Linked DNA regions of Homo sapiens: region 2 is linked to region 1. Evidence: fine-mapped expression QTL. A gene starts in region 1. The other region holds a variant in brackets. All regions are shown on one strand. Distances are from middle to middle. Region 1 holds the start of MAGI2-AS3 (MAGI2 antisense RNA 3). Region 2 has its middle 26 kb from the start of GNAI1.

What was found. PIP is the estimated chance that this variant, and not a neighbour inherited with it, causes the effect.
Region 2: its variant is the best candidate, but not a certain one, in a credible set for the expression of MAGI2-AS3 in cerebellar hemisphere (GTEx, PIP 0.58).

The regions. Positions count from the first base shown.
Region 1 is chr7:79,444,484-79,460,397 of GRCh38, reverse strand. MAGI2-AS3 (MAGI2 antisense RNA 3) reads right to left here and starts at 7,441. Exons shown (of 4, transcript NR_038346.1): 1 at 7,207-7,441; 2 at 6,743-6,811; 3 at 1,399-1,551. It overlaps MAGI2 (membrane associated guanylate kinase, WW and PDZ domain containing 2), which reads left to right and starts at 6,731. Exons shown (of 22, transcript NM_012301.4): 1 at 6,731-7,378. The coding sequence starts at 7,078. RefSeq lists an enhancer at 7,991-8,285.
Region 2 is chr7:80,101,156-80,117,069 of GRCh38, reverse strand. No RefSeq gene overlaps it. Among named protein-coding and RNA genes, the nearest start is that of GNAI1, 26 kb to the left of the region's middle. The variant A/C (reference allele first, on the strand shown) is at 6,277.

The DNA of each region.
Region 1 (15,914 bases):
CGTAGTTAAGATGGAGCAATGATTTGAACTATTTGCAAATGCAGTTCCTTCCCCACTCTTTATATACTGTTTGGGCCATGAATCTATGGAAAGAGGTGTTTTACAAGAACGAAAGTCACATCATTCAGGACTTTCTAGCATAAAATGATCTAATATGCTTAGATTTAAGTGGTCAGATTTTGCCCCTTCCTCCCTTTCCTCTCCATGTTCCCAGATCATTTCCAGAGAGATAAGTAACTAATTGACAGTGTTGTTTGAGAGTAAATTCCTGAGTTATATAGAAGTTGGAACAATTATTCCCTCATAAAACTAAAACAAATTCTACAATAGTTACATGAAATGCAGAAGCACAATCAATGAACATTAATTCTTGACTGAAATGAAACAGCCCTGGTGTTTTCATGCAAACTTAGCTGCTATAAACCTAAAAGATGCAATCACCAAAAGATGTGAAGTCTTGAGGTAAAGATTAGCACTATAAATGCCATTTGATATCAGATGAAATATGCATTTCTGTACATGTGTTTAGAAGAATCTAAGCCCCTAAAACTTCTCCTCACTAACCCCAAGATGCCTGAATTTCTCAACATTAAGTTTTCACATCGTAATACAGTTTTCTTTCCTGGTGTTTCCTCTTCTCTCTGCCTAGTAAAGGATGTTATAAAATCGCAGTTCAATGTTTTTTTCTCTTCTTGTATTTTCCACTCTGCTGGTTATGGCCAATGAGTCAAGATTCAAAGTGTTCCCATATATATCTCTGCAGCTCAAACTCTCCAGAACTTGGGCTTGTATTTCCAGTTACTGGACTTAAGCTGGGCACACCCACAGTGTCCCTGGACTGGGTGAGGAATGCTGGAAACCACTGCATAAACATGAAAAATCATTCCGTAATTTAGGCAAAGTTTGGAGAGAGAGTCACATTTTATAATAGTACAAATACGAACCTACAAAAGAGTAGAATCCCAGACTGGGCCAAGAATGCTGGAAACCACTGGATAAACATGAAAAATCATTCCATAATTTAGGCAAAGTTTGGAGAGAGAGTCACATTTTATAATAGTACAAATACGAACCTACAAAAGAGTAGAATCTAAAATCCACATGAATCTTTAGACGAAAACTAGAGATGAAATAAAGTTGCTCTTAGTGGGGTTAGGTGAGTATGTCATTGTTAGAGACAGTGATAGAGAAGTCTAAGAAACTCCATACTGTGCTAAATAAATCCACCTTTTAAGTGTGGATTCCTATTTTTGTGGGCTTTTGTTTTTTATTTTACATTCAAGGGGTACAACTGCAGATTGGGTTAACATTTTTGTGTGAATATTGAAACAGTTGTGAAAGGAAGTTTATTAATAGGAATGACCACAAACTATGAAATAGACTGAATTTGTGTCTCACCATGTCATCACCATCTCTCAACTCTGCACAGACCCAGTGCTGTCCCTGGCTCTTGAAGACACTGGTTTCTTAACCTCAGCTTCATGGATAAGTACATTTTGTCTTTTCTTCATTGATATGTGCTCTCCTGCATTCTGTTATTGTAAGACATTACTGTGAATGTAAAGAGATAATCATTTAATACTATCAGTAAGAATTCATATATATTCTTTTTTTTTTTTTTTTTTTTTTTTTTTTTTTTTTTTGAGAATGCAGTCTCCCTCTCTCACCAGGCTGGAGTGCAGTGGTGTGATCTCGGCTCACTGCAACCTCTGCCTCCTGGGTTCAAGCGATTCTCCTGCCTTAGCCAAGAATTCATATTAAAGCAGTCGTCATTTAATGAAATTTTGGACACCCTCACTTCAGGCACATCTGCTATCAGGCAAAATTCTACTCAGCTTTTACACTGTGTCAGACAATGTGCCAGACACTAAGAATGCAAATAAAACATAGAACCTGAAAAGTTGTGTTTCTTCAAAGGATACATGGAGACATAAATAAAAGCTGTGTTGATAACAGAAATAAGAGTCATAAAATGCTTCCAAGAAAGAAAGTGGGCTCAGAGGTATTTCTTTCAGGGTGAGCAGGTGTAGACCAGGGAGGGAAAGAGTTGTATTTCAGGCAAACACAAGCCATGAAATGGCCTAGTGAGAGAAGGAAAGTAAGCCGTTCAACTCTGGAAGAAGTAAAGGGTTGAAAGGAGAAGTGAAGACACAGGCCTGACCCTTAGGTAGGACCCCTGGCTCAGCTGTCCCAGTCCCCAGACATGGTGGGAGATTGACTCAAGTCAATGTACCTTACTGCCCTTACCTGAACATCATTACATTTCAATGTTGAAATTCCTGTTTTTAATTATATTCCAAGGGACCTAGAATAGATGGCATAAAGGGGCCTCCTTTCAGTTGTGTTAATCTTGGAGAACCCACATTAGCTTTGTTGCCCTGGGTTCCAATCTCAGAAGTACATGGAGAAATATGGCTGAACAGTTAAAAAGGGTGGAAAGGAGGATCCAAGCAAGATAAGGAGTTTGGACTTTGCTGTGTATTTCATGGGCGGCACTGGGGGGTTTTAAACACAGAAAAAAGGAGAGGTTTCAGAAAGGTCTCTCTGGCATCACAATAGAGATTTTTGAGGTAAAAGACAGGGAGAAAGAAAAACAAACAACAATAATCGTGGAGTAGTGATATTGACAGACTGAACTAAGAAACAGTGTGGATAAGAAACTTTATGCTCTACAGTACTGCAGTCAGCAGAATAATGGTCCCTCTAAAAAAGGTACCACAACTCTATCTCTTATTAGTAGTGTGATTTGGGGCAATTTAAAAGCCCTGATCCTCAGTTTCCTCATCTGTAAAAGAAAAAAAAAAAAGAATAGCAATGTCTTAAGTCAGGATCCCCAGGATCAAACCCTGAGATGAAGATTGTCTGCAAGTGATTTATTATAGAAATGCTACCAAGAAAAACTCATCAGGTACCACAGTAAGCAAGATAGGGAAGAAGGTGGTTTCAGGCAAAATATTAACATCAATATAATTCTATAGGGGAGCCTCAGGGTGTAAATTACACCTCAGGTTTTCTTGCTACTAGAGGCAAGACGGCTGGTCTTTTATACTCTATAGGAAAGTCCTTGGCAAAGGGTATCCTGGGAAAGAAGTAAACTTGCAGGTGGTTCTGTCTGGCTCTCTATGCCAGTACACAAAGTGAGTCTAGTAGTGTTTGGGCCTTCCTCCAAAGAGATTCTCGGGGCAGGCTGTGAGAAGTAAAAGAACACAGAAGCTAGAGGAAGGATACTCAGATTCAACCAAAGGGATCCTAGGAGATCTGGGTGGAGACTATGTCTGCCACAAGCATCTATCTCATAGAACTCTTCTAAGAACTGAATGCATTCATATCTTTCTTTCTTTGGCTTTTAGGATTCCTAAACTATTTTTCTTCTGGAATAGCATGCAATATTTAGCACTCTGCTCTACACTCAGAGTGCTCAGTGATGAAATAATTTTTTCTTGACATAGCATCAAATCCAAAAAGGGTAAAGGCAGTGGAGAAATTAAGCGAATATGAGGAATACCATAAGAGAAAGAAAAAAAATCTGATCCCAATTTCTGACTCCAAGGATAGTGCTTTCCTCAGGGTTCCACTTTTATCAGTTAAGATCCAGTCAAAGGGTATTGACTATTAGGACAGGAAAAAATCCCACTAAAGAATACAGTAATAGTGGTTATTGGGAACAGCCACTATCTCTCAGGCTCTAGGAGAGTACCCAAGGAGGGAATAACTGAGTAGAACTTCCCCCTACCCACCCTCCACCCTACTAAGCCTGAAAGTAGGCGCTCATTGGAAATAATATGGCTGTGGTCCACTTAATGATCCAGAAATTTAAGGTGTCACACACTGGGCTGCTGAGGAAACCATCAGCTGTGTTTTCAGTAAAACTTGCTAGGAAGCCATTCCACTGACATGCCAGTGGTACTCCATAGAAAGACACATACTAGGGAACTGGCCAAATTTACTGAAGATTATGTAACATGGCCTTCTTGCACACCACTGGTCAGAAAGTCACTCACTGGCCACCACACCGTAGGAGCAAGCAGGAAAGCACTGGAACCAAGAAAAGGAGCCCCTTTCTTTCTGCAGTGTTCCCCTAGCACCTTCTATTGACAAAGCTAAACACTGTGCCAACTGACCATAAAGACGTTTACAGATTTCAGCTCTAATGTCACAATTTAGGGCAAAGAAGGGTAGCTGTGAAGTTGAAGAGCACTAAGTTAACTGGCACTGACCTCAGTGACACTCCTGGGATTTGGGGGATGGGAGGAGCATGCTGTTATGCCCAAATCCTGCTCCGTTTGTTTACTTTTTTCCTAATTGTCTCTGAAAGAAAGAGCAGGCCCAATCTTTTGGGACACTATGTAGTGAGAACTGGTATGACACATCGTAAGTGCACAGAGAGTTCAATTCAGTAACTGAGACAAAGTCTAGAGCCGAACCACTTGGGTCTGAACGTTAGCTTCACTATTAACAAGATTTGTAGCCTTGCAAAAGTTCATCCTTGTATACCTCAGTTTCCTTACCTGTAAAAGGAGATAACAGTACCTATTTTATCAAAATGTCAGGAGAAATTAAGTATTATGTGTAAAGCCTATAAAACAACATCTTGCATGTAGTTAGAACCTAATAAATATTAGTATATTCCATGAATGGTAGCTTGTCATTTGGTTTTACAATATGTATATATTCGGTTCTCATGATGAGTTTCCATTTAGAACTATGCCTCATAATGCTAACACTCAACTTCTCTGGGTGAGATTAGGCTTTGCTATCAAGTCTTGCCTACTCCTGGGCATTGCCTGCAGCTCTGGCTTCAGATCCTGGCACTGCCCCTGGCTCACTGAATAAGCTTCAACTAGTGCAGCCAACTTACGGAGGATCTGTTTTCTCAAGTGAAAAAAAGACACAAGGTTAAACAAATCATCTTTTTTTAAGATCTCTTCCAGTTCTGACTACATTTGATCCCCCTCATCCCCAAGTAGTAAGTTATACCTAAGAGGGAAAGAGGAGGGAATTATCATTTCGAACTCCTACTCACCTGTGCCAGGAGAGCACTGCTGTGACTGATTTCCCTGATTTCATCCTCACCACAGTCCTAACAGATTAGTATTGTTAAAGTCCATTTAACAACTAAGAAAGCTGAGGCTCAGGAAGGTCAAGCAGTTTACTCAAGATCATATTCTCAGTAAGCCGCAGAGTCTGGATTGAAACCTGGTCTTTCTGTTTGGGTCGACTCAACATTTTTAACCGTATTGTTTGCCTCCTACATCGCCTTCATCTCAGACATTAAGAATCCTACCTATTCAATGCTTTTCATCCTCCGCTTTAAAGAGATAAGTGGGTGCACAACTTTTTTTTTGCCTGAAACATATCATCTAAAAGTTAAGCAAATGAAATTCATTTACCAGTTACAGGAATCTTTTTCTTAAATCACTGTTAATGTCTCACAGGAAATTAGCTCTTCAGTGGAAATCAGCAGCCTCCCTGCATCCTTTTGCCCCTGTCCTCCCCTCTCTTGGATGCAAACCTGGCGAAAAGAAGGGAACACTGCTTGGGGTCAGCGAGCTGAGTTCCAGCTCCGAATGTACCATTTTCACCCTCGGGAGTCTTCTCCCCTTTCTCTGTGAGCAAAGGAGTGTTGGGCCAGACCGTCTTAAGGATTCTTCCCCAGGTACAAGCCGGACTCTGGCGGCTTTCCTGGGCAAGGGAGTGTCTCCGCCTTGTCTCTGCCGCAGGTCCCTGGTTAAATTGTCAATTTCTCTGCGGAGGCTGCTCACTGCATCCGCTCCCTCCACCCCTAGCCCTGTAGACCCCTTCTCTTTCCCCTACTTGGGAAAAGTGAAGCCCCTTATCCTTGGATAGCCTTTCACCAGACAACCGCAGCCGTCCGCTAAATTCCCCTACTGGCGGGACGCGCGGGCGGGGGCCTGCCCCGGGGAATGCGAGGCTGCTTCCCTTCTGCGTAATCAGGGTACGCAGCCTCCAGTTCTCTAACTTTCTCCTTCTCTAAGAGGGAATTTCGAGAACTTTAAGACAAATAAGTGACTATATAGATGAAGACATGAAACCTCTCTACACAGTGAACTCCCCCACGCTACAAGGCTCCCAGGGATCCCAGGCCTTCTCCCGCAATGCCCCGCCGGGTCCCCCGCCCCAACTCCTTCTCACGGCAGGATCCCGCGCCAGGACGCTCGCAGAGCCCGAGATGTGGCACCAGGCGCGCCACAAGTCCAGGTCCCGCTATTTCTGCTCCATCGGAGCCCAGGTCGGAGGGAGTCAGCGCGTCCTCCTCGCACAGGAGCCTGGCGCGCGGCTCGGTCGCACAGAGGCTGAAGAAAGGTCCGCACTGGGCTCGAGGCCCTTCCTGCCGGCCTCCCCACGCCGGGCCTAGGCTCCCCTCCTTCCCGGCTCCCGCCTCCTCCCGTAGGCTGCCAGGCGGACCCAGCCTGCCTCTCTCTCTGCCTTCACTACCGGGTCAAGCTGCGGAGGGAGGGAGGGAGGCAGCGGCGAAGCCCTCCGTGGCTCCCCACCCGGCGCGCGCGCCCCTCCTCCCCTGCCTCCTCCCGTCTGCCAGTACAGTAGAACTAGTACACACACACACACACACACACACGCACACGCACCCTGCCACTGCAGCTGCCATGGATATCAGCTAACAACACACACCCAGGCGCGCGCGCGCGTTCCCACTCGCACCACGCAGGAGTGGCCCCCGGCATCCCTACCCTCCTTCCCCACCCCCACCACACCCGCTCACCAGCTCGGCTACTGCTCGCTCCGGCTGCCGCCGCCGCCGCCGCCGACGCCACCACCACTGCTTCCTCTGCTGCGGGGCCACAGCCTTGAGTGTCATTCAAGGGACAGCACAACCTCATCCAAGCTCTCCTACCTCTGCCCAGCCGTCCCTCTCATCCTCCCCATTCCTCGTCCACACTCCATCCAAAGAAGAGGGAAAGCACCGAATAGAGGGGGGCGAAGGCAAAGTCTGCTGTTCTTCCCCCTGGGCCCCCTTGCTCCTCCATCCTCATTCTCTCACCACCAGCCCCCCTAACCCCAAGGAGCCCAGGAACTGAGGCGACTCGCCCCACTGCCATGTCCAAAAGCTTGAAAAAGAAAAGCCACTGGACTAGCAAAGTCCATGAGAGTGTCATTGGCAGGAACCCGGAGGGCCAGCTGGGCTTTGAACTGAAGGGGGGCGCCGAGAATGGACAGTTCCCCTACCTGGGGGAGGTGAAGCCCGGCAAGGTGGCCTATGAGAGCGGCAGCAAATTGGTGTCGGAGGAGCTGCTGCTGGAGGTGAACGAGACCCCCGTGGCGGGGCTCACCATCAGGGACGTGCTGGCCGTGATCAAACACTGCAAGGACCCCCTCCGGCTCAAGTGTGTCAAGCAAGGTGAGAGCAGCGGCTTGCTCAGTGTTTTGCCGGGCGGTGGGACCGCTCGGGGCGCAGGGCAATGAAAGGGTGGCCGCGCATGTTGAAGGGGGTGTGTTGCGCGATGATGGGGTGGGGGCCAGAGAGCACCCGCAGTGCAAGTGAGTTTCGCCGGGGATTCGACTTGGGGGCTAAAGGGAGGGGAGGGGCAGGTTGTGGTGTGGCGTGCAACTTTGTTTGCTCAGTTAGACCCTCCCCTTTGGAAGGTGCTCGGCCTGGTCTGACCTCCTCAGAGCTGCTGGGGCAAATTGAATGTGCGTCAGTGGCATCACCCGAAGCGGATGAAGAGCTTTTGGGGAAGGGAGGAAGGAAGAAAAGAAAGAAAGAATGGGAGGAAGGGAGGGAAAGAAGGAAGGAGCAACTTCAGGGTGCAGCGGCATCACCAGCGGGTCTGGGAAGAGAAGGTGGTGGGGTGAGCGGAGAACTGCGTCCAGCGTTTCTGGGGCTGGGCTGGGGGCGCCTGGGTCCCCAGCTGTCCCTTAGGGATCCGTGAGCCACCGCTGGCGAAGAAAAGAAGGGACAAATTGCTTTGGGCGCTTTGACGGGTCTTCTGTAACTTTTCCCCTTCTTCACTCCGTGTCCCCCTCCCCCGCTCACGGTCGTGTCATGTGGGCATCGCGCGTCACGTGCGTACTGACTAACCCCTGCGCTCACCCCTAGCCAGCCCGGGGGAGGAGGCTCCGGAAGAAGGCGCGGTGCTAGGAGCGCAGTCTAGTGCTGGGCGGGGGTCGGAGGAGATGAATGGTTGTCGGAGGAGATGAATGGTTGTCCGCATGGACTTTACTCAGGGGTTGCCCTCATTGAGTGGAAGTCCTCTGTGGTTGGGCTCTCCTCTGGCTCCGATTTGGGGGGCGTGTTTTGGGGGAGGAGCTGGATGAAACCCTGGCCGGTTCCAGCCCAGGCTCCCTCAGCTCCAACCTGACTTAAATGAACCTCAATTGGAGGCTGTGATGTGGATTTGGGGAGATTGGAATCATCCAGAACTCCCTGTCTTTGCTCGAAAGAAAATTATGGTGCAGAAGGAGAGAAGAGTGAGATAAAAGTTTGAATAGAGGACAACTTTAAGTAGAATAAAGTAGTAGCTTTTTTCTTTTCTGTTTTCTTTTTTAGCTCACTGCACAATTCGTGTGCGGTATGTATGGATATTTGCGTCACAGGCATATTAGCATAAGGGTTTGTTGTTGTCGTCGATGTACACTGTTTGTCCTGACTCAAAGGTGGAATTGAGCATGTCATTACCTGCATTTTGCCGCTTAATCATGATCAACTACTAAGAAATGCTTTTACGGAGATGTACCGCACTGTTAAATTATTCTCTAAAAAACTTGTTTTAAAATAAACAAGATAAAAAGAAGTACTGGGCAAGGTTTCTTAAATGTAAATTGCCATACAAGAAAATGTTTTCCTTGGGTATTCTTGAGTATTAAGAGGTAATAAATTGAGATAGGTTATTATAAGTCAACATAGCTCCATACTATTTAACACTGAAGGGATATGAGTTTGGTAGGAAGGAAAATAGAGTAACTTGATATTTTTGAAGATAAGATACCTAAGGTTCAAATACAGAGATTCATGTTAACATGTTCGATGTCAAAATACCACCTTATAGGAATAGACATAAATGGAAAGATCTTTGGGTACGAAAAGTCTACTACACAACTAATGACCATGGTTTTGTTGGCCAAATGCTTGATATTTGTCATGGAACGTGGCTGCAAAAGTTAAGCGTTGTTAAATTGGACTTAATAGAGTCCCACAAACGGATGCCCTATTATAGTTTGCAATGATCATCACATCTTAAATGTTGTGTTCAATTCTGAGCACTCCTTGTTGAGGCGGACGTTGGCAAACTGTCACGCTAGCAAAGAGTAAGTTCAAAAGAGAAATAAAGGAAGATTATTGTGTATTATAGATGTATTCTATGAAATGCCGTGGAAAGACTTAACGTGGAGAAGTGAAAGAATGAAAGCTATCATTAAATAGCGAAAAGCTATCAGGTAAGAAAAGGAATTCTGACTATCCTGTGATAGCCCACAGGACAAAATGGTGATAAATCTATGAGAAATTTGAAAGGATGAAGCAGCTTTACTTTCATTAAATCATGAGCTTTCTAACAGAGTTTTCCAAAAATTTGTGAGCACCCTGTTGGCTGAAGTTCCCATCATTGTGGGTATCCATGAAGAGGCTGAAATGACCATATGCCAGGGATTCCTATATAAGATGAGGACCTGGATTAGATATTATTTGAATCTTGCCATAATTTGATCTAATGTGGTTGGAGATCACTCTTGTATTGAATTTTATGTGGAAGATTATTGCTTTTAGAACTCAGAATATATGCTTCTAAAGTGATATATTGAGGGGAAAGTCTCTTTTCATTCTATATTAACCCTCAGTTTCGTGCTTCACTGGTTCATTGATGATAAATTTGTATAATGATAGCCAGAGAGCCCACAGTTGGTTCATCTCCTGAACCACTGCTGACCAAAAACAAAACAAAACAAAATATTTCTTTTACCTTTTGTGGAATAATTAATTCTCTTGTATATTCTTTTAAATATGATTCATGTTGCTATTCTAATAATTCTTTTCCTCGTCAAATCATAGATTAATTTTATTTATGATTATAAAAAATGAAATTTTTCAGAACCTTTACTATAGTGCCTGTGTGTCTTAGGTTTCAATACAGATGTCATTTACTGGAAAATCATTTAGAAACTCTTGGCCCAGTAGTTATGTTTCAAGAGATGCAAAAGCTAGCATAGCTGAAAAACTTAAACATGGTTTGTTTAGCAGTTGCGTTTTTAAAACATTAATGAGACTGATTTTTGAATATTCATTCAGACATTGGGTATTATACAGAAACTACAAGAATTATCATAGTTTAAGGAAGATTTTATAAAGAAAAGGTAAGATTTGAATAATAAGAATATTGTTAATAAGTGCACCAGGTAAAATTGCATTATTTACTTAATTTTATTTACTTGTTTGCCTAATTTTACATTACAGTTATCATAATTTTCATCTGTCATAATTTTAAAAGGAGGTGAGCTCCTTTTAAAATGTTGGGATTTTAAGACATTATATATATATATATATATATGTATATATCTCACAGTGTTTCTACACTGTTTAAATACCTGCAAAACAATTTTTAAAACTGTTTAATGAAATTCAAGGAATTATCTTTTTAATTTAAGCTTTCTGCTTTTAATCCACACAATAATAAACCACATATTAAAATATGGCTTATTGTCACATCCAATTCTTTTTTATAAACTATGGCATTTTATTTGTAATAATAAACTTTCCTCACCAAAGTATGTAATTCTAAATTAGCAGTAATTCTATGATCTCGTTAATGCATCAGACCCAGTTGAAGAAAGTTTTTTGAGTGATGTTGAGATCTATATGGAAGTGCTAAAGGTCTTCTTTCCTTTTTCTTTTCCCTTTTTTAAGGTTTGCCACTAAAGTTCACAGCAGCCAGTTACACAGGCCTTTGTGGCCTACATTCCTTGCACTATGGCTGCTATTGCATCTAATACCACATAGAGACCTACATAACCTGGACTTATTTTCCCATTTAGGGTCTCACAATGGGAAATAAAAGGCAAAAAAAAAAAAAAATTCTAATTCTTCCCATGTGGAAGATGGGCCAAATAAATCCTTTGAAATTCAGTTTTAGAGAAGATCTACATTGCTCTCCCTCCTACTGCTCCTTTCAAAGATACCTTCAAAGGAAAGTAGATCCACATTTATTAAGAGTCATACTTTCTTCTTGACTGACTTCAGGCTTAGAATAATAGAGTCAGATCTCTATACTCCTTTGTATCTGAAAAGGTAAAAACAAATTATGTCAAATTTTCTGAAAATAAAGATTGACTTTTTTTCTGTAGAAATGTGAGGTATATGAATAGTGTTGTTTAATAAACAAAACATTGTTTAAACATTTTGATCAGTTTATTATTTTAGAAATAAAGTACCATTAATGTTTTGAACAAGGTTAATGAGACGGTTCTCTTGGGGCATAATTTATAAGTGATACCACTGTAGTTTTCTGGTACATGTAGATAATTTAAATGGTATGACCTCGAATGTTAAATATGATTATTTGCTTTTTATCTGTACTGTCCCTATTCTTAACATTTACACTGTTTAATCTTTTGGCATGTTTATTATGCTCACTTTCCTTTTCATTGCTTGTAACTCACAAATTCACTTTCATAATGAGAAAAGCATATTCACATTTGACATCTCTGATTGATTATAGTTTAATTAATGACTTTCAAATACATACAGACCCTGGCAGAATCATTTTCCTCAGAAGGTGGGGTAGAGCAATGGTTAAAGGTACAGTCTCCTAAGTAGACCACCTAGTTTTAATTCCTGAGTATGTCAGTTAGTGCTAGCTATATGTACAAGATAACTAACCTGGGGTAGTAATGGCACCTTAAGAATATTAGATAAGTTATGTATTTAAAGTGTGTAGTGTCTGGCAGGTGATAAGCATTATGTAGATTTTAGTAAATGCTATTGCAAACATATTGGTCATTTTGAGCTAGTGACATTATGAGGTGTTTTTAATTTTCAAGATATTTTACTCAATTCAAATTAACTGAAAAATATGAAATGATTGACATTAATATAGAGTATTTTGCAAGTTGTATTTTAAGGTTTTTTTGCAGAATGAAATAAATATTTTATTTGAAAAGAATTTATTTGAAGAATAATATCAATAAATACAATGGAAAATATTTTCACTTTTTAAAAATAACTTCCACTGATCCTCCCTTTATGTGTAAACATCTGCTATTTTATATTTATTTTATACTTTAGACATAGTTTATTTTTACATAGTAATTTGTTTTCTTCATACCGCATATCTTTACTCCCAAAGAATTGCTGAATATATTGAATTATTTACTCTAAACTTGACAACATAGAAATCCTATTAGAATTTATTAAGTTTAGGAGTTTATACTTCTTATATTAATACATCATTGTAGTTAAGAGTAAGTATCATGCTGTTGAACTTTTACTTCTCAGCTAGAAATTAAGCACCTCATAAAGAATAACAATAATAAAAGTTAACTCTTAAGTGTTCACAGTCAACAATGTATAATAAAGAGGAAATGCATCAAATTCAGCAAAAATAATACTTTGCATTTGTGAGTATTGCAATGTAAATAAGTTAAAAGGCTATTTGTATTGCATTTTATAGTATTTTATACTATACTATTTTATAGTATTTTATGGTACTGTTAAAATACCATTAAATTTAAATACTATTTAAATACTATTAACGTACTATAGTACTATTAAAATACTATTTTATAGTATTTTCATACTTTGTATGAAAGAAATGCAATATAAGTAAGTCTGTGTATTAATACTGTTACAAGGTGAAGCAACCAACAATACTTCCACTGCTAGCTTCCCCATAATTTTAGCATTTTCGTTGAATTAATCCTATTTTACAGTTCAATGGAAACATCTACCTTGAAGCTCCAGGGTTCAGTATTAATTTCTAAAAATCTCTCCTAGCTATAATCTGGCTATATATTATGACAACAAACATACAACTGCCTTAGTTTAGTGACTTTATTATTACTTACTCCATTCTATTCTCAGCTCTCTTCTGTCTCTAGTAAGTATTTGTTATATTTCCTTTAATAAAAGTAAATTATCTTATATAGAAAACTTAGTAATATAATAATTGCTGAATTTACATTGTTAAAGACTTGCATAGGGACATACATAGTACAATGTCCATATCATCATAGATAATTAATAAAAATTGCTTTTATTATTACGTCTTACTGACATCTTTGTCAACTCTAAAAGGACTTCATATTGAGATATTTTTAAAAAAGTTAAAATTTGTGTTAAGTTTAATATATATTGTTGACTGTTTTGAGTGGTCTGGAAGAAACAATAAAAGTTTCCTTCTTTGATAAGTTATTGAATATTAACTCAATTGCATCCCATTGATGTACTTTTATTTTTTCACTTATTTATTATTTTTTTTTGAGACGGAGTCTCGCTCTGTCGTCCAGGCTGGAGTGCAGTGGCGTGATCTCAGCTCACTGCAATCTCCGCCTCCCGGGTTCACGCCATTCTCCTGCCTCAGCCTCCTGAGTAGCTGGGACTACAGGTGCCCGCCATCCACGCCCGGTTAATGTTTTTGTATTTTTAGTAGATATGGGGTTTCACCGTGTTAGCCAGGATGGTCTTGATCTCCTGACCTCGTGATCCACCTGCTTCGGTCTCCCAAAGGGCTGGGATTACAGGTGTGAGCCACTGCGCCCAACCCCCATTGATATACTTTCAAAGATCCATTAGGCTAATGAGTGGGTGATTTATATGAATGGCTAGATTTGTTTCAATATTTGAAATAATTAGATGGCTTGCTCTACCTGGGGAAATAATTTCTCCATGTAATCGTTACATGAATCCTTATGAGGTTTTATGCCATTTTTATTTATTTTGGCTTACTTTAAAAAAAAAATCACTGTCAAAACCATGGCAGTTTGAGCCTAAATACTTGCTATACTTTGGATATATCATTGGATATACCCAAACACAGATATGTTACAGAAGAAAAAAATAAACCTTTATAGTGCAAAGAGAGATTTTGTCTATGTTGAATTTTCTTCTTTTTTTAATTGTACTTTAAATTTCGGGGTACACGTGCTCAACGTGCAGGTTAGTTACATATGTATACATGTGCTATGCTGGTGTGCTACACCCATTAACTTGTCATTTAACATTAGGTATATCTGCTAATGCTATCCCTCCCCCCTCCTCCCACTGCACAACAGGCCCAGGTGTGTGATGTTCCCCTTCCTGTGTCCATGTGTTCTCATTGTTCAGGTCCCACCTATGAGTGAGAACATGCGGTGTTTGGTATTTTGTCCTTGTGATAATTTGCTGAGAATGACGGTTTCCAGCTTCACCCATGTCCCTACAAAGGACATGAACTCATCCTTTTTTGTGGCTGCATAGTATTCCATGGTGTATATGTGCCACATTTTCTTAATCCAGTCTATCATTGTTGGACATTTGGCTTGGTTCCAAGTCCTTGCTATTGTGAATAGTGCCACAATAAACATATGTGGGCATGTGTCTTTATAGAAGCATGACTTATAATCCTTTGGGTATATACCCAGTAATTGGATGGCTGGGCCAAATGGTATTTCTAGTTCTAGATCCCTGAGGAATTGCCACACTGACTTCCACAATGGTTGAACTAGTTTACAGTCCCACCAACAGTGTAAAAGTGTTCCTGTTTCTCCACATCCTCTCCAGCGCCTGTTGTTTCCTGACTTTTTAATGGTTGCCATTCTAACTGGTGTGAGATGGTATCTCATTGTGGTTTTGATTTGCACTTCTCTGATGGCCAGTGATGATGAGCATTTTTTCATGTGTCTTTTGGTTTCATAAATGTCATCTTTTGAGAAGTGTCTGTTCATATCCTTTGCCCACTTTTTAATGGGGTTGTTTGTTTTTTTCTTGTAAATTTGTTTGAGTTCACTGTAGATTCTGGATATTAGCCCTTTGTCAGATGGATAGACTGCAAAAATTTTCTCCCATTCTGTAGGTTGCCTATTCACTCTGATGGTAGTTTCTTTTGCTGTGCAGAAGCTCTTTAGTTTAATTAGATCCCATTTGTCAATTTTGGATTTTGTTGCCATTGCTTTTGGTGTTTTAGACATGAAGTCCTTGCCCCTGCCTATGTCCTGAATGGTATTGCCTAGGTTTTCTTCTAGGGTTTTTATGGTTTTAGGTCTAACATTTAAGTCTTTAATCCATCTTGAATTAATTTTTATATAAGGTATAAGGAAGAGATCCAGTTTCAGCTTTCTACATATGGCTAGCCAGTTTTCCCAGCACCATTTATTAAATAGGGAATCCTTTCCCCATTGCTTGTTTTTCTCAGGTTTGTCAAAGATCAGAGAGTTGTAGATATGCGGCATTATTTCTGAGGGCTCTGTTCTGTTCCATTGGTCTATATCTCTGTTTTGGTACCAGTACCATGCTGTTTTGGTTACTGTAGCCTTGTAATATAGTTTGAAGTCAGATAGCGTGATGCCTCCAGCTTTGTTCTTTTGGCTTAGGATTGACTTGGCAATGCAGGCTCTTTTTTGGTTCCATATGAACTTTAAAGTAGTTTTTTTCCAATTCTGTGAAGAAAGTCATTGGTAGCTTGGTGGGGATAGCATTGAATCTATAAATTACCTTGGGCAGTATGGCCATTTTCACAATATTGATTCTTCCTACCCATGAGCATGGAATGTTCTTCCATTTGTTTGTATCCTCTTTAATTTCATTGAGCAGTGGTTTGTAGTTCTCCTTAAAGAGGTCCTTCACGTCCCTTGTAAGGTGGATTCCTAGGTATTTTATTCTCTTTGAAGCAATTGTGAATGGGAGTTCACTCATGATTTGACTCTGTGTTTGTCTGTTATTGGTGTATAAGAATGCTTGTGATTTTTGCACA
Region 2 (15,914 bases), 660 kb before region 1:
TTTTTGCTATATTACGTTATGCCTAGACTGCTGAAATATAGGTTTGACCATTTATTTAAATCTCAATCTAGGAAATTTATGAGAATGAAAGAGGCCCCCTCTAAAATTACATATTTTTAAATATTTATCTCTTTAAAAACAATTATTTTTATGCTGAAACTGTAAAATAATTTCTAAAAATAAAAAGTGGCATATGTCCATGTTCATAAAGCAAAAGTTTTAATATCGATTTTATAGATTATATTAATGTTAAAAATATAAGCAGAATAATTATTCTTGAAAACTGTTCATATTATTTATTCTTTTTTTTTTTTTTTTTTTTTTGAGACAGAGTTTTGTTCTTGTCGCCCAGGCTGGAGTGCAATGGCATGATCTTGGCTCACTGCAACCTCCACCTCCCAGGTTCAAGTGATTTTCCTGCCTCAGCCTCTCGAGTATCTGGGATTACAGGCGCTCGCCACCATGCCCAGCTAATTTTTGTATTTTTAGTAGAGATGTGTTTTCACCATGTTGGCCAGGCTATTCTTGAACTCCTGACCTCAAGTGATCCACCAGCCTCAGCCTCCCAAAGTGCTAGTATTACAGGCATGAGCCACCATGCCTGGCCCACTATTCATGTTCTTTAAGCAGTTTGTTATCCATGTCTATATATAATGCCACTGAAATTTTTCTTAATAATTTATTTTTTAATACTGTTTAATTATTTTCAGTTTTCATAAAATTACGTGCAATCTTCTTCAAAGTTGTATCTTATGGCTAATAAATTTGGAATTTTTGAAAATTTAGGTTGATTTTCTATGTGGACCATTATATTTTGAGTTAAACAAATATTCTCTTGGTCAGGCATGGTGGCTCATGGCTGTAATCCCAGCACTTTGGGAGGCTGAGGTGGGCAGATATCCTGAGGTCAGGAGTTTGAGACCACCCTGGCCAACATGGGGAAACCCCGTTTCTACTAAAAATACAAAAAATTAGCTGGGCGTGGTGACGGGGGCCTGTAATCCAAGCTACTTGGGAGGCTGAAGCAGGAGAATGTCTTGAACTTGGAAGGCGGAGGTTGCAGTGAGTGGAGATCTCGCCACTGCATTCCAGTTTGGGCGACAGAACGTGACTCTGTCTCAAAAACAAAAACCAAGCAAACAAACAAACAAAAAACAACAAATATTCTCTTTACAGATGTAAGATGCCCAGTAAGACCTGAGCAAATTTTGCTAAACGGAGGTTATTGTTTATTTTATTTTATTTTTTGGTGTTCAAATGTACAAATATTTCAACCTAGATATTTTTAACAGGCTTTATCTTATTGTCTGCATTTTAAAAACCTTTCTTTCATATGTATTTCATAAGAAAATAACTTGTTAAAATGGCCAGGCATGGTGGCTCACGCCTGTAATCCCAGCACTTTGGGAGGCTGAGGCGGGCGGATCACGAGATCAGGAGATTGAGACCATCCTGGCTAACACGGTGAAACCCAGTTTCTACTAAAAATACAAAAAATTAGCCAGGCGTGGTGGCAGGCGCCTGTACTCCCAGCTACTCAGGAGGCTGAGGCAGGAGAATGGCATGAACCAGGGAGGTGGAGGTTGCAGTGAGCCGAGATTGCGCCACAGCACTCCAGGCTGTGTGACAGAGAGAGACTCCGTTCCAAATAAAAGAAAAAATAAAACAAAAGAAAATAACTTGTCACATAAGTGTCTCTTTTTTATTCTTTTGTGTATTTCACCAAGTTTAAATCTATAGGTGTTTTATTCAATTTTAGTAGAAATTATAAATTAATTTGTTAAAAGACCTACACCAAAAAGTTCATCCCACAAATTTAAGTATTTCAAAGTAAAATTATAGTATTCCAAAATTATGTACATCATTTGAGCTCTCATTTCTTAATTTATTCAGTCATTACCTTGGTTATGTAGATATATTTTAATGCCTTTCTGTGTTAAGCATTGTTTTCCATTTTACTTTTCTATAAGCCTGAAAAGCTGCAGTTTTTTTATTGCTCTATTTGCAGAACATTTTGATTAAAGATTTCCAAACTTAAGTTTGAACAAAATGAACCAAAATTTAGAGGCTTTGTGTTTTTTTAAAGAAGTTCAGTTCACTGTAAGCCTTTTAGGTTGTTTTGCAAACTAATTTTTCCAAGTAGCAAACATTTCTTAAAATCCTATTGATGATGAGCAGCAAAGAGAAAAAAAAGCATGTATTGCTATGCTGAAGTGTGTTATAACTTATTTAAGATCAACTTTATCACAAAAATTTTGTAGTTTACCTACTCTGTACACATATAAAAATGTGTAAATTTTGACACCTACATTCTCTATGTTGATTATAGAATATTGTACTTTTTCAGTTTGCAATTAATTATGTGTCTACCAGAACCACTTCCAAATACAGCATATGTCTGTTTTTGAGCTCATTGTTGCCAGAAGGGTTTCTAGATCAAACTACATTAGCCCAAGTCTTTGCATCCTTCTTTGTATCCATACCCTTGGCATCCTAAGCAGATTGTACTTTCCCATCCTTTGATTTATTTTGGCCAGTGGCATATAGACAGATTTGATAGTGTGCTATTAATATTTCTGAGCCCAGGCTTGAAGAGATCTTCGGTAATTGTGCTTGCCCTCTTAAGCTTTTGCTATCACCATGAGAAGAACATGTCCTGATCTAGCCCACTGGTACCAGGAGAAGAATGAGAAACACATGAACTATTATGTCAGCTGAATGGAGCTCAGATCAATGGATTCAGCTGCTACAGTCTGATGCAAAGCCTATTGTGTCCAGAATTTATTCCTTCCGGTGGGTTCTTGGTCTCCAAGAATGAAGCCGCAGACTCTCGTGGTGAGTTTTGCAGCTCTTAAAGATGATGAGTCTGGAGTTTGTTCCTTCAGATGTTCAGATGTGTCCAGAGTTTATTCCTTCCGGTGGGTTCAGGAGTGAAGCCGCAGACCTTAGCAGTGAGTGTTACAGCTCTTAAAGGTGGCTCGTTCGGAGTTGTTTGTTCCTCCCGGTGTGTTCGTGGCCTCGCTGACTTCAGGAATGAAGCCGCAGACCCTCGCAGTGAGTGTTACAGCTCATAAAGTAGTGCGGACCCAAAGAGTGAGCAGCAACAAGATTTATTGTGAAGAGCGAAAGAACAAAGCCTCCACTGTGTGGAAGGGGACCCAAGCAGGTTGCCACTGGTGGCTCGGGTGGCCAGCTTTTATTCCCTTATTTGGCCCTGCCCACATCCTGCTGATGGTTCCATTTTACGGAGCGCTGATTGATCCATTTAACAGAGTGCTGATTGGTGCATTTACAATCCTTTAGCTAGACACACAGCGCTGATTGATACATTTACAATCCTTTAGCTAGGCACAAAAGTTCTCAAAGTCCCCACGGCCCAGAAGCTCAGCTGGCTTCACCTCTCACTGTCATATATTTAAATTCAGTTACTTCTCATTACCACCCAAGGCCTCACTCCTGCCCTCCTCTGATATACCATCATCTCACTCTTGATTATTGATTCAGATATTAGCTGGCCATCACGTAGCCATGAAGATAAATGTTTTAAACTGTTGAATTTGGGGGTGATTTATTAGGGAGCATTATTGTTAATGTGGCATGGCCAATTGATACGATAGATTTCTTAGCTGCAACATTGTGTTTACCATAATCCTGACTCCACCAAAATTTGTATTCATAATTTCACTGTAAAAATGAACCTTTAAAAACTGTGTCTTAATGTATCTAAATGTACCTTAAATGTTGAACTTTTAAACTGATTTTACATTGATGTAATGTTGTAAATGACAGATGCTCACCTTCTCTAAAATTTTTTATTGATTTGATTTTGATTCCATGAATTGGGTGGGAAAATATTCTGAAGCATTATTGGATTCAACTAACAAAATTTCTTATTTGAAGCATATAATTACACTTATATAAAACTGGCATTGGAGCTATTTTCTTCACTTTTCATATGTGCATAAAAATTGGGATTGGGCCGGGCGCGGTGGCTCACGCCTGTAATCCCAGCACTTTGGGAGGCCGAGGCGGGTGGATCATGAGGTCAGGAGATCGAGACCATCCTGGCTAACAAGGTGAAACCCCGTCTCTACTAAAAATACAAAAAATTAGCCGGGCGCGGTGGCGGGCGCCTGTAGTCCCAGCTACTCGGGAGGCTGAGGCAGGAGAATGGCGTGAACCCGGGAAGCGGAGCTTGCAGTGAGCCGAGATTGCGCCACTGCAGTCCGCAGTCCGACCTGGGCGACAGAGCGAGACTCCGTCTCAAAAAAAAAAAAAAAAAAAAAAAAAAAAAAAAAAATTGGGATTGAAAATAAATTATTTAGAAGAACACTCATTTGTTTTAAATGAAAACTCATGCTTTTCAAAATGGAATGTAGCAGCTGCAGGTATTAAATTGTTGTCTTTGGAAACATTCTTAAAATAATGATTGACTTTTTTTTTTTTTTTTTTTTTGGGACCGAGTCTCGCTCTGTTACCCAGGCTGGAGTGCAGTGGCACAATCTCGGCTCACTGCAAGCTCTGCCTCCAGGGATCATGCCATTCTCCTGCCTCAGCCTCCCGAGTAGCTGGGACTACAGGCGCCCTCCACCAGGCTCGGCTAATTATCTTGTATTTTTAGTAGAGACAGGGTTTCACCGTGTGAGCCAGGATGATCTCGATCTCCTGACCTCGTGATCCGCCCGCTTCAGCCTCCCAAAGTGCTGGGATTACAGGCGTGAGCCACCGCACCCAGCCAGTGATTGGCTTTTGAATAGATATTGATGGTTTCTCAGAGATTTGTGTTTTCTGGTTTTCTAGTGACTACTGACTTTACTGTGGTCCCTATGGTGAATAGTAATCATGGATAAACTTTTTTTGTGCAAATTTATATTATTCACTTGTTTTAAAAATGGAAATGGATATTCAGTACGATTTTTTTTTTTTTTTTTTTTTTTTTTTTTTTTTTTTTTTTTTTTTTTGCTCTGTTGCCCAGGCTGGTGTGAAATGGCTTAAGCGTAGCTCACAGCAGCCTTGAACTCCTGGGAGTTCAAGTGATCCTCCTGCTTCAGCCTCCTGAGTAGCTGGAACTACAGGCAACCAGTACTAAATTTTTTATTATACATGTTGTCTTAGACCATTTGTGTTGCTATAAAGGAATACTCAAGGCTATGTAATTTATAAAGAAAAGAGGTTTATTTGGCTCCTAGTTCTGCAGGCTGTACAAGAAGCCTGGTGCCAGCATCTGCTTCTGGTGAGAGCCTCAGACGGCTTACACTCAGTGGAAGGCAGAGCGGTGCTGCTGTCTAGCGATCCCATGGCAAGAGAGGAAGCAGGGGCAGGGAGGTGCCAGGCTTATTTTAACAACCAGCTTTCCTGGGAACTAATAGAGTGAGAACTCATTTACTACAATGACGAGTGCACCAAGCCATTCATAAGGGATCTGCCCTCAAGACCCAAACATCTTTCACTAGGCCTCACTTCCATTATTGTGGATCAACTTTCCACATGAGGTTTGGAGAGTCAAATATCCAAACTATAGCACTTGCTTTTCATGTTTTCAGTTCATTGCTACCAAAATCTATTGCAAACTAAAAAAGCTTTACCAAACAATAAAATAAATATTTATAGACTTACAATAAATGACCAAATTACTGTACCAAGAGATTATATTCTCTACATTATACAGTAGAAATATCATATATAGCTAACCTTTCATTTGCCGTATTTCCTGTTGACCCTGCTGACTGTTGACTGGTAATTTCGTGCATTGTCCAGTCTGTGGTATTTGCCATGACAGAGCTGGCTAGTTTACCAAGTGTCTGGCAGAGGCTGCGGCTTCAAAACTTCTCCCATCACCACCTGAAACTGCAAAGAGTTGACTGTCTTAGCCACTCACTTCCAAATGTACTTGGTTTTCTCAGTGAGCATACTATATGCTGTTTGAAAGGGAGATGTTAGTTTTACTAAATATGGAAAGGCTCTAGAAAAGGTAGCTATTGCATATTGTTTTAAATATATAACCATGCGCCTGACCAACTGACAAGCTGGGAATACAAAGAGTAGATCTAACTCATCTCTGATTATTTTAATGCAAATATTGATACAAATACTTTGATAAAAATAAAAAATCCTGGACAAATGCTAAACAGGAGTAAATGAAGATTGTCCAAGCCAAATTTTACTTGAGGTCACTTGTATGCACACACATGCACACACACAGACACACACGCAATTGGCTCCTAATTGGCCTCCTTTAATCCGTTCTTGCTTTCATTCCAAGCAGTTTTTTCCAAA[A/C]GAAAGAAACAAGAATCAGAAGGGCAAATAGTAACAAAATATCTCTATAACTGACCACATGAAGAGGTGCCCTGAACTCGCAAAGACAAGCATCTATTCTGTGGGTTTAGTGTAATCTTAAGGCAAAAAGCTATTTATCAGTTTTTCAGGCATGATGGCAGTAGCCATTATAATCATCCATCTAATGTTTTGGGTTCACAGTAACTTTCTGATTATAACATTGCTTCTGACACATATTTTCCCCAGGAAGAGAATGTGCTGATTAGCAAACATGAGTATCCTTTCTTCTTGATAACGCAATTCTTTTTTTTTTTTTTTTTTTTTTGAGACAAAATCTTCCTCTTGTTCCCCAGGCTGGAGTGCAATGGCACGATCTCGGCTCACTGAAACCCCCACCTTCCAGGTTCAAGCGATTCTCCTGCCTCAGCCTCCCGAGTAGCTGGGATTACAGGCGCCTGTCACCATGCCCTGCAAATTTTCGTATTTTTAGTAGAGACAGGGTTTCACCATGTTGGCCAGGCTGGTCTCAAACTCCTGACCTCAGGTGATCCACGCACCTCGGCCTCCCAAAGTACTGGGGTTACAGACGTGAGCCACCGTGCCCGGCCGATAATGCAATTCTTATTTTAAAATAACAAATGGGCTCTCTGGATTAATAAACAGTCAAAAATATTTTGAATACATATTCCTTTGGAATATTGCCTTCTATCTTTTCCTGTTACAGTACATTCTAGAAAGAATAGCCTTTGTCTCTGATTTCTCACTAATTCATTTATTCAAAAAATGTTTATACAGAACGCAATACCTGATGGTGGGAAAACTTCCAGAACATACATTTAGACAATTTTTGAAATAGGACCAAGTCCTGTGTACTTTCCATTGCATTACAACTTCTTTAGCTTTGGAAATATTTTCAATTAATGCAATGAAAGTGAATGGAGTGCTTAATCACTTCATTATTTAGGGATTTTTGCCTTTGATTCAGTGACAGATTGAATATTATTGAAACTGTGATTTAAAATGCTGAAGAAATTAACCAGAAAACATATTGCTAATCATCCTTTCATATCTTTTTCTATTTTCAAAAAAATTTTCCAAACTACAGTACTTTATAATAAAGTCTCTTATTTCTACAAAATCCTGAACTGTGCCTGTTCGTTTAACTGACTCACTCAATGGCCAAATTGCAACATATAGATTCTAAAGAGAATTTAAGATGTGAAAAAGTTGAATATGATTTGGGCTGCCTTTCTTTGGAATTTATTTATTTCCTACGCCACCTGAAAACCTTTAAAACTTCCAATATACTAGGTTTTTAATTCCTTGAGCATCTCTGCTCAAACTCTTAATGTGCACACAAATCACCTGGGCTGGGGATCTTGTTAAAATGTAAATCACAATTCAGCAAGGCTGAGGTGGGGCCTGAGAGTCTGTATTTCTGACAAGCTCCCAGGAGTCGTGGATACTGCTGATTCAGGGATGCATTTGAATAAGAAGGCTCTAGAAGACAAACCAAAATGCTAATAATTTGGAATGTTTTATGAATGTATCAAAAACATACAAATTTTGATAAGTATCCTTGGTAATATATATTGATGTGCTCTCAGGGGTAATCTGTGGGCCCAGCATTGCCTAGGAATGTAGGACCATCAAAATGAGCTTTCTGTTTTAAAAACAGAGTATACCCAAATTATTACAAACCAGTAAGTTAATCACTTGATGTGCGTTATTATCAGGTATTTAGGTATGTACAACTGTGTTAACATAAGTGATACATTTATGGCTTATCTAGTTTTCTTGGCTGTGAACGCTAAACTCAGTTTGCATACCACGTTTGTGAAAATATTTTTAAATATGGAAAGTAGTCAAGAATTCATGAACAATAACATTGATGTCCAATGTGTATGTACTCTTGTATGGTTACAAACGATTTATTACTATAAATATTTGTTACTTTCCACTTGGTTTAATTATTGGATACTTAAAAGAAATTTTCTATTATGTAACAGTTTAAAAATAACTTGTTGTATTTTCTATTTTTAAAGAAAAACAATCTAGTATAAAATGAAAATTATAAAATATCATGAAAGTAATGTTTTATTATCAATTAATATGTTGAATGAAGTATATAAGGTCTTTCAGCCCACATACTGCTTCTTCCAGCTCCCAACAAACATCAAAATGCCTTGATATTACCCTGCTATTTTAAGAAAATGGGCACTTAAATAACTCAGTTCTTCTATTTCTATGGTAATCAGAATGCTCAATTTCTATTTGATTTTTAAGTTAAAGCAGTCTCATTTGCATACGTACAATAAAAGTTTTTGTGTGTTGCTAGGATCATTTCCATAATTCTATATTTTTCATCTTATCATTCTTGACCCTGACATTGTGCTATAATTTGCAAAACTAAAATCCATTCAGAAATAATCATTGGCAGAAAAAGTAAAAGCCAAGAAGACAGATACCACATTTAATGCAACTTTGCTTTTTCACAGTAACCCAATGGACAGGAAGAAAAGCATCACAAAGTGGTTCAGCATAATGGTAGGATTGATTAACTTGCTAGAAATAGACAGAGTTTTTATCCAAGTTTGGATTGGCTCATACCAATTACTGTATGATTTCACTTGGAAATGGAGCCAGCTACAAGTAGCTATGTGCCTAAGCTGAATACAAAAATTGTACCTATGCCATTACTCTCCCTTTTTGTCTAGAATACACTTATATACATAGCAAAAGCAAGGATAAATAGAAACAGCAATACTTATAAAAATACTTTTTCAATTCTTCCTGGAATGTTTGTGTTTTACAAATGTCTCTATACATTTTATTTTTTGTAAACAAGAGTCTTATTCTGCGTGTCTCTTAGTATTCTAGCAAACATTTGTGCCATGTTCAATTATGAATGCATTCCTTTAATTGAGACGATTGAATAAATTATATGCTTAGGTGATGAAAGCACTTTCTTTTCTAAATAAGCAGTTTGATATAAAATACTTCAGTAAGTAACTTATCTGTATTTTACTGAATTTAGAAATTTATATCAGGAACTTTTATCTACAGGAGCTACATACTTCTTGTACTAATTTTTTTCTGGAATAAGACAGTGTGACCAGATGAAGTCAAATATAATTTCCATGCAGCTTTTTCTTACACTCTGAAGAGCAAGCACTTAGGCAAATAAAAGCAAAACTGTACCTCAAAAAGCCACATCCTCAATGGATGTCTTTTAGAGGAAGCACTATTTTTTTTTCCAACCAAAACAGGATACTTACAGCCTTCAGAGATAAAATAGCAGAACTTACCAGTCTCTTAGCATCTGAAACCACAGTCTGTACCTGTCATTTATTGTTTTGTAAATGAACTAAAAATAGAAGATGGATGGGCTGTGTGAAATCCATAAATTCTGTTAATGGCCTACTAAGAAGCCATGTGTTTAGGACACTCGATGTTACTCAATGATTCTCTTTCCATGTTGTTTTAAAGAGAGCTCTTAGAGCACTTGCTTATTTTGTCATTTTATTGCTACCTTGACTTCAAGGTAAAATAATGATTTTAGCTTATTTAGTTTCTTTCTATAAATGCACTCAGCACATGATTTTGCCTTCTAATTCCACAGAAAGTCAAGAGTTCTCAATTTCCTGTCCCTCCTCACTTAACTCCATGAAAACAAAGCTGCGTCCACATCAGTTATTTCTCTTTCTAGTCTCAGGGGCTGTGCTTATGTCCAAAACTGATGCTAATCAATGTTGTTCTCTGGATATTTGTACACCCTCCTGCTCAAGATAATCTCTCTACCAATTTTCTCTCTCCCCTCTTCCTTTCTCTCTATCAGCTCTCTAACTCTTTATTGCTATCACTCCATCTCTTTATCTCATCTCTATCTTTCCTTTTGTCCTATATTTTCAACTTCCTCAGCTCCACTGGCTCTTTCAGACCCTTTGTTTTCTGAGTGTAAGCACTCTTAGTCACTTCTGTTCTGAAAGTATTATAACTGCCCCTGTTTCCTTCCTTTTGAAACAAAACTTCTTGAAAGGGTAGAGCACTCTAAACATATCCATTTCTTCACTTCCAATGCAATCATGAGCCTGCTGCAATTTGGCCTCTGACAGTATTTAAGACACCAAAGATGACATTAACTCCCTCCACATAAAACAGTTTCTAGGTAATATTTAACTTGGATTATGTGGCATTTGCTAGACAGTTGAGTATTTCCTTCTTAAACTTTCTTTTTTTGGCTTTCTTTTTCGTTTCCTACATCTCCTTCTATCTCTCACTAGTCTTGAAACAAAAATATTTAAGTAAAATTAGTAGCAGAGCTGAACAAATTCTTAGACATAAAAGAAAAATGAATGCCAATCTGATTTAGAAAAAAAAGCCGTCAAACTGCCCAGACCCTAAAATTATATATGAAAAGCAGTCATTAGCTAAACTTCTAATTAGTTAAATATATAAAACTATAATTTTATTTTCAATTATCACCATAGGAAGAACTGTTTTATTCTACTCACATGTCATTGGGTGGAAAATACTGCTAGTGTTGCTTGAACTGAACAGGCCAGGAGAAACCACTGAACAGGGAGAGGCAGCCAAACTTTTACAACATTGGTAATGATTATAGGGAAGAGGTGCTAGACTCTGGATTGTGTCAGTTTTCTCTTTCTCAAAAAAGGAAGGTTTAAAAGGAACTAATCTGAGACATTTTTTAAAAAAGCAAGTTAATATTTCTGTTCCTGCTAAATTCTACATCCAACTTTAATGAGGAAGAGGATATTTGTTTCCTAAGATTGCCTTAACAAAGTACAAAAACCAGGTAACTTATAATGACAGGAAGTTATTTTCTCACAGTTCTTGGGGACAGGAGCCTGAAATCAAGATGACAGCAGGGCCATGTTTCCTCTGAGGCTCTAGGGCAGGATCCTTCCTTATCTCTTCTAGCTTCTGGTGATTGCCGTCAACCTTCGGTGTTCCTAGGCTTGTTGACGTATCACTCCAACCTCTGCCTCTGTCTTCACATTCCTTCCATTTCTCCTGTGTGTGTATCTATCTCTGTGTTCCAATATCCCTCCTCTTTGCCACCTTCCTCTTCCTCTTCCTCCTCTTCTTCTTCTTTGTCTTTGTCTTGCTCTGCCACATAGGCTCTGGAGTGCAGTGGCATGATACAGCTTACTGTAGCCTCAACCTCCTGGGCTGAAGCAGTCCTCCTGTCGCAGCCTCCTGAGTAGCTGAGACTATAGATGCATGCCACCATGCCCAGGCCTGGCCGATTTTTTTTTTGTAGTAGAGACAAGGTCTCCCTATGTTGCTCAGGCTAGTCTCAAACTCCTGGGCTCAAGTGGTCTACCTGCCTTGGCCTCCCAAAGGGATTGCAGGCATGAGCCACTGTGCCTGGCCTACCTTCTTTTTATAATGGCACCAGTCATATTAGATTCAGAGCTCACTCTACTCCAGTATGAACTCATTTTAAGTTGATTACCTCTGCAATTTCCAAATAAGGCCACATTCATGGGTTCTCAGGAGACATGTATTATATGGGGATACTATTTAACCCAGTATATTTTTTTTTAAAAAAATGACTGATCACACAGTATTTTTCTGCCTCTGCAAACCTCACTAAAACAATATTAAAACAATAAAGTAATAAAAAAGAGCTACCATAACAAATACAAAAACAAAGATACCCATTGGAAACTGACAATACAGGAAATAGTTTTTAAAATTTGAAAATAATCTAATATTCTCAATGAGATATTACAAGAGTAGGATGCTATGGAAAGGAAAGAAAAGAGAATAAAACTATGATAGAAATAAATAACATTATAAAAGGACTGAAAGATAAAGCCAAGGACCAAAACTTAACACACACACACACACACACACACACACACACACACACAGACACACACAAAATGTGAAAATAGTAAACATAGAAAAGAAAGGAAAAATTCGTGAGGTTCAGCAACTATTTTATATAAAATATATAGAGAAAAGAAAAAACAAAATAGATTAACTATCAAGAACTGTAAAAAACAATTTTTAGAAAGACATGAATCTCCAAATTGTAGGTGTCCAGCACAAGTGGCCCATAAAAAAATAAAGGCAGACCTCACAAATCACATAAAATGTGACATTTCAAAATAACGAGCATCAAGAAGAAAAAGCTTCTAGAGAAAATAACAAAGGTCACCTACAAGAGACAGGAAATCCAAATTGCATTAGCCTTCTCAAAAGCTATAATGAAAGATAGAAGACCTTGGAGCAATGTCTTCAAAATTATTGATGAAAATGATATTTGATGAATAATTTGATAGCCAAATTATCAATCAATGATGAGAATAAATTAAAGTCATTTTTAGAAATGCAGAAATATATGTCAGTTACTAATTCATGGGAAGCTATTGGAGGATATACTTGAACAAATAAGGAAGTAAATTAAGAAAGACAGAGGTAGTATTCAGCAAAAATGATCAATTCTAGAAAAATATCAGTAAAATTTTAAGGATGACAATAAAGGGAAATTCCAGGACAACTGCTGTGTGGCTTTCCTAGAGAGCAACCTGTCCACAGTGGATCAGAAGAATGGAGAGCTCCAGTCAAGTATTCTTGATAGAGACAATTTCCTAAACCTGATAAAGGGCAGCTACAAAAATCTCACAGTCAACACCATGCAAAATAACAAGAAAGGATGTCTGCTCTCACCACTTTTAGGCAGTATTGCACTAGAGAGTCAAGCCATGGCAAGTAGGCAAGAAAAAGAAAAGCATCCACACTGGAAAAGAAGAAGTAAAACTAGTTCTCTTTGCAGATGACATGATGTTGTATATATATAGTAAATACTAAAAAGCCCACTAAAAACTATTACACGTTTACAAGAGCAAATAATAAACAAGGTTGTAGTATACAAGATTAATATAAAAAGATCTATTTTATTTCTATATACTAGCAATTAACCACCTGCAAATGAAATTGAGAAAATAATTCCACTTACTCTAGTATCAAAAAAATAAAATTCTTAGAAATAAATAACAGAAGTGCTAAATGTATATTTTGAAAACTATGAAATAGAGTTGAAAGAAATTTTAAAAAACCTAAACTTATGGGTTGCAAGGTTTACTTATTGTTTGGATTATTGGATTATGTATTATTTGGATATATAATAAAGATGACAATGAATGTTTGTTATTCATTATTATTTATTGTTAAGATAGCAATTATTTATTAAGATAGCAGTATTGTTAAGATAGCAGTACTTCCCAAACTTATCTACAGAATCAATGCAATTCTTAACAGAATAACAACAAACTTTTTGCAGAAATTGACAAGCTGATTCTAAATTTCATATGAAATTGCAAGAAACCCAGAATAGCCAAAATAATTTTAAAAAATGAAGAGCAAAGTAAGCAGATTCACATTTTCCAATTTCAAAACTCGCTGCAAAGCAATGGTAATTAAACAGTGTGCTGGCACAAGAATAGACATATAGACTAATGGAATATAATTGAGAGACCAGAAATAAATCTATATACCCATGGTCAATAAGTTTTGACAAGAGTGACAAGACCATTCAATGGGGAAAAATATTCTTTTCAACAAATGGTGCTGGGACAACCAGATGGTCATAGGCAAAAGAATGAAGTTGGACATTCACTTCATACCATATGCAAAAATAAATTCAAGATATTATATATCAAAGACTTAAATGTAAAAGTTTAAACTCTTAGAAGAAAACAAAACAGTAAGTCTCATGACCTTGGATTTTTCAATATGACACCAAAAGTATGAGCAACAAAAGAAAAAATTGCAAACTGGACTTCAATAAGCTTTATGCTTCAAAGAACACTATCAAGAATTTAAAGAAACACACTACAGAATAGGAGAAAATATATGCAAATTATATACATGATAAGGGACTTTTATCTAGAATATTTAAAGCACTCTTACAACTTAATAATAAAAGACAAATAAACAAACTAAGAAATGGCTAAAGTACCTGAATACACATTTCTCCAAGGAAGACATACAAACAGCCAAAAAGCAAATGAAAAGATGCTCAACCTCATTAGTTATCAGAAAAATGCAAATCAAAACAACCGGAAGATGCCACTTCACACCCAACTAGGATGACTACGTTTAAAAAGTCAGATAATAACAAGTGTCGGTGAGAATGTAGAGAAATTGGAACTCTCATAAATTACTGATAGGCATGCAAAATTGTCCAGTCACATTAGAAAACTGTCTGGCATTTCCTCTAATAATTAAACAGAATTACCAGTAATTCCATTTCTAGGTATATATGCAAGAGAAATGAAAACATGTCCACATAAAAAGTTATACATAAATTTTTATTTGTTTGTTTGAGACAGGGACTCACTCTGTCACTCAGGCTGGAGTGCAGCGGTACGATTTTGGCTCACTGCAGCCTGGGTGACAGAGTGAGTTCCTGTCTCAAAAAGGTGGACGCAAGCAGTCTTCCCAGCTTAGCTTCTAGAGTAGCTGTGACTACAGGTGCACACCACCGCACCCCACTAATTTCTTTTTATTTTTTGTAGAGTCATGTTTTTAATATGTTGTCCAGGCTGGTCTAGGACTCCTGGGCTCAAGCAACCTTCTTGCCTCAGCCTCCCAAAGTGCTGGGGTTTCAGGTGTAAGCCACCATGCCCACCTTTGTACATGAATGTTTATAGCAGCATTATTCACAGTAGCCAAAATGTGTCAGTGGATGAAAGGATACATAAAATGTGGTATGCTTATAAAATGAAATATCATTTGGCTATAAAAATAAATGAAGTATGACATATGCTACAACTTGGATTAACCTTGAAAACATTGTGCTAAGTGAAAGAAGCCAGTCCAAAAGTCCACATAAAAACATATTCTATTTATATGAAAGTCCAAAATAGGAAAAGCTATGGTGACAGAAAATAGTATAGTGCTCACTTACAGTTGGGTGCCAGATGATAGGGGTTTATAGTGGTGATAGCTAAAGAATATGGGGTTTCTTTTTGAGGTGATGAAAATGCTCTAAAATTGACTGTGGTGACGGTTGTGCATATATGTGAATATACTAAACACCATTAAAGTATACATTTAAAATGGGTAAGTTATATGGCATGTGAATTATATTTTTTAAAGTCTGGTTTTTTTTTTTTTTAATGATGGTATATGAATTCTGAGCCTAGATCATGGAACATATCATGCTTCTGCCTTGCTATTTCTTGGAATGCTCCCTTTGAGGGAAGCCAGGCACCATATTATGAACATGCTTAAGCAGCCCATGGAGAGGCTCCTGTGGGAAGGAACTGAGGCCTCCCGCCAACAACCTGCCCCAAATGAGTGAGACATCTTGGGAAAATATCTTCTAGCCTCTGTCAAGACTTCAGATAACTTGCAACCTTAGCCAACATCTTGACTGGCACCTCATGAGAGATTCCAAGCAAGAACCACCAAACTAAGCTGCCTCTGAATTCTTGACCCACAGAATTCATTGTTGTTCTAAGTAACTAAGCTTTGGAGTCATTCGTTCAGCAGCAATAGACAATGAATACGGCAGCATTAGAAAGAAAGAATAATCAAAATGTAGCACTTTGGAGGGAAGGAAGATTATTTGTGTGAACATATTTAATCTGTATTCCTAC